Homo sapiens: one gene and its partner. The protein of the gene in region 1 interacts with the protein of each later gene in a pairwise test. Each region holds a gene or a part of one and is shown in the gene's direction. Other genes may lie near its edges.

Evidence for each region. Proteins that work in one complex are often made in the same cells at the same time.
Region 2: the proteins of CLTRN (region 1) and RBM18 interact in a two-hybrid assay, tested with the Homo sapiens proteins (one large-scale study listed by BioGRID and IntAct).

Annotation. Positions count from the first base shown.
Region 1 is NC_000023.11:15,629,985-15,634,033, reverse strand, and holds part of CLTRN (collectrin precursor), read left to right. Parts: intron 1-4,049. UniProt on the Homo sapiens protein: Plays an important role in amino acid transport by acting as binding partner of amino acid transporters SLC6A18 and SLC6A19, regulating their trafficking on the cell surface and their amino acid transporter activity.
Region 2 is NC_000009.12:122,240,533-122,244,587, reverse strand, and holds part of RBM18 (probable RNA-binding protein 18), read left to right. Parts: intron 1-719; exon of another isoform or gene 720-844; intron 845-2,544; coding exon 2,545-2,704; 3' UTR 2,705-4,055.

The DNA of each region.
Region 1 (4,049 bases):
AACTGGGTCTTAGGAAGGGACCTTAACAATGATCCAAATCCAACCCTCCAGAAACCAAAGCCCAGATAAGTAAGAATATTTTATTGTTTTATTGACCATCCATTCTGTGATAGGAGCTATAGTATGTATTGTGGATGAGACAAACATAAATAACATGGATGGTCCTTGCCTAAAAGGAGATTGTAATCTTATAGTAACAAAGCCAGGTCAAAGACTTAGGACATAGAACCCTAGCTAATGCTCCCAGCTGAGTAGAGTCATTAGTAAATTTGCTTGGTTTGTTTCTAGTTATACTTATATTCCCATAAGGTCAATAGTAAATAAAAATGCATTTGGATTTCCACAGATCTTGTTTTTCACACAAGCGGATGTGGCTCAGTCAACACTTTTATATCCTGAAACCACATTCTTATAAAGTCTTAATTAAATGAATAGTCTTAAAAATAGAGGTGTAAATAAAATGAGTAATGTCATAGCGAATATAACAAATGTTTTTCTTTGCTGTTCTTAAATATACATACCTGATAAAAATCTAATGTAAGTGTGTTGAGTAAAGCCTGGGGAGAGTAAATAGAGTTCTAGGTCAACTCCTTTCACCAGTCTTGTTTCATTCTGAAAGACAAGTTACTCTACGTATTTGAGTGTCAATTCCTTCATCTGAAAAACAGAGATGAGGCACGTAGTCGTGGCTGAGTGGTTAAAACGATGGATTTGAAAAACAGTGATAATAAAATATGCATAATATTGCAGTAAGAATTAAGTGAGATGATGCATACAAAACATCTAGTCTGATTTCTACCATGTAATAAATACTTAATATTATCATTAGCATTATCATTGCTATTATATGGCACATGTAAAGCAACTTGCCTACAGTCACATGGTTAGAAAGTAATAGTAACAGGATTTAAAACCAGGTAGGTTTGATTTCAAAGTCCATCAATCTCACTGTGCTACAGTGCCCACTCAAATCATTCCAGTAACCCTATTTACCCCCAGAATCATCCAGAGCAATTCTGAGGATGGTCTCAATTCCCCGATAATTGATTCTGTACTGTTTGAAAATCATATTTGTCTGTCTTTTATTGTCTTTCTGGCTATTCTTGGGTCTTGGCTCTTTAGCTCTATTTTTTTTTTTTTTTTTTTTTTTGAGACAGAGTCTTGCTCTGTCACCCAGGCTGGAGTGCAGTGGCAAGATCTTGGCTCACTGCAAGCTCCGCCTCCCGGGTTCACACCATTCTCCTGCCTCGGCCTCCCGAGTAGCTGGGACTACAGGCGCCCGCCACCACACCCGGCTAATTTTTTTGTATTTTTAATAGTTTCATCATGTCAGCCAGGGTGGTCTTGATCTCCTGACCTTGTGATCTGCCCACCTCAGCCTCCCAAAGTGCTGGGATTACAGGCGCGAGCCACCACACCCAGCCTCTTTAGCTCTATTTATTTATTTATTTATTTTGAGACGGAGTCTCACTCCGTTGCCAAGGCTGGAGTGCATTGGTGCGAACTCTGCTCACTGCAACCTCCACCTCCCGGGTTCAAGCAATTCTGTTGCCTCAGCCTCCCGAGTAGCTGGGACTACAGGCATGCGCCACCACGCCCGGCTAATTTTTATATTTTTAGTAGAGATGGGGTTTCACCATATTGGCCAGCCTGGCCTCGAACTCCTGACCTCAGGTGATCCGCCCGTCTCAGCCTTCCAAAGTGCTGGGATTACAGGCGTGAGCCACCACGCCCGGCAGTCAGCTCTATTTTGTTTGAAGGGGGACAGAAATGCTCTTCCTGCTTTTGGCACCATTACTTTATCTTAGAACAGAGCAAACCCCGTTCCTCAACATCCCCTAGCTCTGAGGGCCACACCTGATACTTCTTTCCTCCCCTCTTTTGCCCCTCTTCTCTCTATATTTATGAGGTATATGAGAGATATTCACTCTCAAGGCTTCTAGGAGCTCGTTCCAGGAATTTTAATCAGTTTTTTCATCCTCTTCCTGAACCCCCTGACATTGCAGGAATAGCAGAAGTAATTAACACTTGATTTTAGTTTTCAGGAAAAAGAACTCATGTTTTTAGCAGAACATCAAATCAGAATGATCCAGAAAGATAGTTAAGTTTTATTATTCTTAGTAAAAGCAATGCACAGGTAGTGAATCAATTTATTACAGCAAACACTATGAAATGTGACAAAGTGATATATTACTGTTAGATAGCCTTTGAGCTGCTTATCATGTCCACCAAGCAGCAAGTTCCTGACACTGCAATTGGTGAAGCCCAGCAATGCCAGGACTCTGCAACTGGATCTATGGTTGTAAAAGAACAATATGCACCTAATTTGCCACTGACACAGCTCAGTTTGATAAATTTCTACAGCAATTCCCCTTGGAATCTTTTTGGTTGAGATATTATTCTTATTCTAAAGAAGAAAAACTTGTCCTCATTTGTTTACATCTTCCTTTTTAGTTTTTCCCCATTCTTTCGTGATGCCTGATGAATCATTTTTCCTTGTTGCTGGGAAGGGGGAAGCGAGATTCCTTGTAATGATCATCACATACGTCTAGCTCTTTGTTATTTTTCTTCTAACTCCATAAATACTTTTTTTATTAACTGAAGAAACTGGAAAATAGGCCCTGGCAATTATTATTTCTAAGACTGCTATTGCATTGCCACCTACTTCAGAATGCTTCCTTTACTAAAATGTTTGTAATACAGGTTTCATACTTAACATATACAAATATCAGGGTAAAATTTGGCTGTCCACAATCTATTTATTGTTGTGGAAAATTATCATTCACTCCAAGCCCAGTGAGGAGTGATTTTGGGGGAATTTACATGAGATAGCCATTTTAAATGATGATTTATAAATAGACATTTGCTACTTACAGCTTCATCTTTAGAAGAAACATTCCTCTCTCTTATAAAGCATTAAAATGGGGAGAGGGAGGATGAGTATATATGGCATTTTTCCCTTTCATTGAGTTCATTTTAGGACAAGGACTGTATCTCTTCCATACACATAGTAGACGCTCAAAATGTAGCTGTTAGTGAATGTTGGATACTATGAATGGAAGTGATGTGATTGATGGTTATAGAATGTTGATTTCCTTTGCTTTCTGGAGGACGTGGAAAGTGAACAATACACCTATCTATAGGAAGAGGAACCAAAGTGTTCTAATCCTCTGGTGGGTAATTTCACCTGGAAGGATCCTCTCATCACATTAAAATCTATGTCCACCCCAACCCATGCTGATTGCTGATTGCTGATGCTTGCCATGACCAGTGTGGTGTCTTCACTCCAAGGATGGAAAAATATAGCAGCCTATCTTTCCCTAGGTCTCTAGGACCACAACTCCTGACTTTCAACCCAGCATTGGGCCAGAAGTTTTATTAATAAATGTTTAAAATGTGGCATCTGCAATTCAGTGATTGCCTATTGTGTTTAATTGTGATATTTGATGGTGGCATATGCAATGGTAAAATACTTTCAAATGATGACATTGGGATCTACAGAATTGGAATGCTACTTTACCTTTGTTTTAAATGAACAACTATTTGAAATTATTTAATAAACCATCAGCAAAGCCTAAAATACAAGAGATACAAGAAATTTCTTGTGTGTAAAATTCCCTTCCTTCCTTCCTTCCTTCCTTCCTTCCTTCCTTCCTTCCTTCCTTCCTTCTTTCTTGTGGTAAAGCCCGTTCAAGGTCTACCTAGGGCTACTGCCTGAGTAACTTTACCTACAACATTAGTCCATACATACATACATCTAATTGTTCAATCTACCATCTATCTTCTGTCCATCTATCCATCCATCCATCCATCCATTCAGCCAGCCAGCCATTAATATATCATCTAGCCAACCAGCAATTGAACTACATTCATTGATTATTTTATCCATCTGTCCATCCACCTTTCATCATTTGTTCAGCCACCCACCCATCTTCTGTCCATCCATGTATTTATTATCCAGCCAGTCAGCCATTAATCTACATTCATTGATTCATCTACCCATACAGTTGAATGCCTACTCTGTGCTGAGTCCAGGTCAGCTGTTTTGC
Region 2 (4,055 bases), on another chromosome or scaffold:
CTAAACACTTTATTTGCAGTGTGTCATTTACTTATGGCTGAGATCACACAGATGGCAAATAACACTCAGGATTTAAAGCCAGGTCTATTAGACCTCAAAATTCAGTCTTGTAGTTACTACTTCAAAGAAGCCCCAGGCTGTAAATGCAGGACTAAAACCTGTTCCGGGGCAGGGGAAGAAAATACGTGAAGGAGCATCAGTGATACATAAGGATCAGAAACCAACAATTCTAAAGTCAGGAAAGTGATGCCTATTTGGGTGGAGTACCAAGCAGGGGAAATAAATGCCTTTCTTGTATATTATCTGCACCAAACAAAACAGATTTACAAGCATCTCATTAAACCCAAGGGAAGGTGTTCCTGAAATGTTTTCAGGAATGGTAAATTGGTAAATTTAAATTCATTCTATAGTTATTCATTTAAGTTTAATATGATTTTTTTTTTTTATTTCGTGCTCTAGGGAATTAAGGGACTTCTGTAGAGTCACTGGGAGCATATATCCACTGTGTTATTTTCCTCATAAGATTTGAACCTCCTTGATCACAGATTGATTTCCATGAAGGTTTTCATAAATCTAACTAACTCCTATTTGAAAGAGATGACTGCATTTATGCTTGGTGGTCTTCATGTTACAATGAACATGTCTTTAGTTTCTTATGATTTGTATATGCCACTTGTTTACAAGATAGCCTAGGGTTTTCCATCTATTTTTTTATCCAGAGGACCTCAGCTTACATCTCTCTATTAACATCTATGCCTAATGAGAGAAGGTTGCTTCCCTGTGACTTATACAAAATCAGTGACCAGCTGTGGCATTAATGGAAGAGGGGCCAGAATGCATCTCGGTAATATATCAGTGTTCTTTTTCTTGTAACTTAGTTTTTAAATTTCTCGCCCATGTATACCTTTCGAGGATCTCCAAAAGCCCATGTATATACTCCTTCCAAGTTTCTCTCACTGGCCATAGACCATTAACGCATCAAGAATGGAAAATGAAGGTAGCCATAGGCCAAAAAATACCTACTCCCTGAGTGCTCTGCATTCTGATCCAGGGATAGCAATGATCTCAATCAAAAGCAAATTCCTCGCAACTTCTCTAAGATCTCCTCTCCCTTCCTGTACAATATAGGACTATTCAGCTCTTAACTTGATGGAGAAGAAAAAATGAGGGCTTTGGTGATGAGTTGAATCCTCACTACAGTTTGTTAACTGTGTGAACCTTGATCATATCACCACCTCTGCATTTGTTTCTGTATCTATAAAACATGCATGATAACCCATGTAGAGCCATTGCAAGGATTAAAAACATTATAAGTAGGTCGAGTGCAGTGGCTCATGCCTGTAATCCCAGCATTTAGGGAGGCTGAGGCAGGAGGATTACTTGAAGCCAGGAGTTCAAGACCAGCCTGGACAACATAGTGAGACTCCATCTCTACAAAAAAAGTTAAAAAAATCAGATGGGGCTGGGCGCGGTAGCTCACGCCTGTAATCCCAGCACTTTGGGAGGTCAAGGCGGACGGATCACGAGGTCAAGAGATTGAGACCATTCTGGCCAAAATGGTGAAACCCTGTCTCTACTAAAAGTACAAAAATTAGCTGGGCGTGGTGGCGCTTGCTACCTGTAATCCCGGCTACTTGGGAGGCTGAGGCAAGAGAATTGCTTGAACCTGGGAGGCGGAGGTTGCAGTGAGCCGAAATCACACCACTGCACTCCAGCCTGACGACACAGCGAGACTCCATCTCAAAACAAAAACAAAAACAAATTCAGATGGATGTGGTGGTGTGTGCCTGTAGCCCTACCTACTCACGAGGCTGAGGCAGTAGGGTTGCTTGAGCTCAGGAGTTCAAGGTTTTAGTAAGCTATGATGGCACCACTGTATTACAGCCTTGGTGGCAGAACAAGACCCTGTCTAAAAAAAAAAAAACAGTATAAGTAAAATGCACTGTGCCTGGCTCATTGTAAGCACTTTGTAAATGATAGTTTTTATTAACATGCATTCATCAGTAAAAAGAGATTGTATAGGATTTCCAGAATGTTTTTTTTCCATTTTTATTCAGTGATTCAGGTGAAACCTGGGCTTTTGAGTCAGTTTGTATTCAAATCTCTGCTCTATCGTTTACTTGCTGTGTAACATTGGGCAAATGAACCTTTCTGTGCCTCAGTTACATCATCTGCAAAATAAGGAATATAACCTATCTTATAATGTTGTTTTCAATTCTAAAAGAATTATTTTTAGTACCTACTCTCTGCCAAGCATTAAGGTGCTAACAGTGTCTGCGTCTGAGGATTAAATGTAGAACTATATGAAGTACTCCCAACAATGTCCAGGCTTATGTTAAAAACTTAATAGATGGCTCAGACTTGATCTGTTTCTTAGAATGAGAGAATTAGTTATTTCTGGCTTTTATATAAAATGTTTAAATGTCTGTAATTTAGTATCTTGTTGCGTCTCTAATATTCCCAAGAGGCTCAAGGAGAGGAACTGTACAGCTATTTTCTGAATATACCTAGGCCCACTCTGATCCTCTGCTATTATTTTTCCAGTGTCACTGCAAAGATAAAAGCCATTGAAGCAAAACTGAAAATGATGGCGGAAAATCCTGATGCAGAGTATCCAGCAGCGCCTGTTTATTCCTACTTTAAGCCACCAGATAAAAAAAGGACTACTCCATATTCTAGAACAGCATGGAAATCTCGAAGATGATGGTTGTGAATTACTGTAGCAGCAAAAGCAAATTGGTCTCCACACCTAAAATCGTCTGCCTGTGTACTTTGTAGATGTGAATGGTACTATTCAACGGAGCACAATCACATGTTAGCATTTGGTAACATAATGTTTTTGGATGTTCTTATGGATGTTTCTTCCCTAAACTATGTATGGAATTGAGCATCATCCAGAATAAATAGCGTTGTATCCCAAATTGTGATTTGAACCCTGGGATGCTCTAATTGGCTGGTTGGTTTGGATTTGTAACTCCAGAAACATTCTATAGTGTGCCAGAGCAAAAGGCAAATACACAAAATATTATTTAAATCAGGAAACTAAAAATATTAACATCTATTAAAAAATTGAGCATTTTTCTACGCTCGTGTGTCTTTTACAACATAAAGAAAAAGTAAAAGGCAGGGAGGGAAGTGAGAGACAGATTTTAAATCATGTTCAGAACTGTTGTTCCAGAATTTACTACGGCAATCCCTCCAACTGGACTGAAAAAGAGAAAGTTCTTGGCAAAAAGGAGCTGATTCTTTGAACAAATGTTGTAGTAATCTGTTTAAGAATTATGCTTATTGTTTCAAAATCCCAACTAGGAAAACATGGTGTATATCTTAAAATTGTTTGTGTTGACAAAACTAGAATCAAATTTAACATTTTATACCACAACACAAGTTCTATTTGGAAATTGAACTTTTATTCTATAGCAACCATTTTTTTCAAATCTAAATAACCATGCCTTCTATAATAACAAATGTTGCTATTATCATGGGACTTTTAAAATTACATTTATTGCATGGGATTGTTTTTATAGCATGAGAATGTTCTGTTTGGAATTATATCATGGTCAGTCTAAATAGAAAAAGCAAAATTTCTTTGAAAACCTAAACATTGCTATATTGGTCACTATCAAACATACAATTTTCTAATAATTGTGTAGCGGTCTAAGTGGAAGAGATTGCATTATCTTGTGCAGGACGAGGAGAGGACATGCAGTGGGCACAGAAAGTCAATGGAACAGATGCCACTGTGGCACCAAGACTGTAATGACTCTGTGTGGTAGGTAGTTTTAAAGGACTGCATGCCTTGGAAATGATTCTTCACTTGGAGAACATACTTGCCTCTAGATATGTTTGTCACTCTAAGCATCCTGAATATAACAATAGAGAAAGATAAGTCAACCAACAGATTTAGGGATGTGTTTCTTCAGCACATTTTGGTCATTTTGATGCCAAGTTTGACATACTGTTTAATTGGGCAGCACCTTTGCTCCTTTACCAGGTATGTATCACTTTGTTACTCCAGGTGCCATTCTTGGTGATGACAGAATGTTTATCACTAT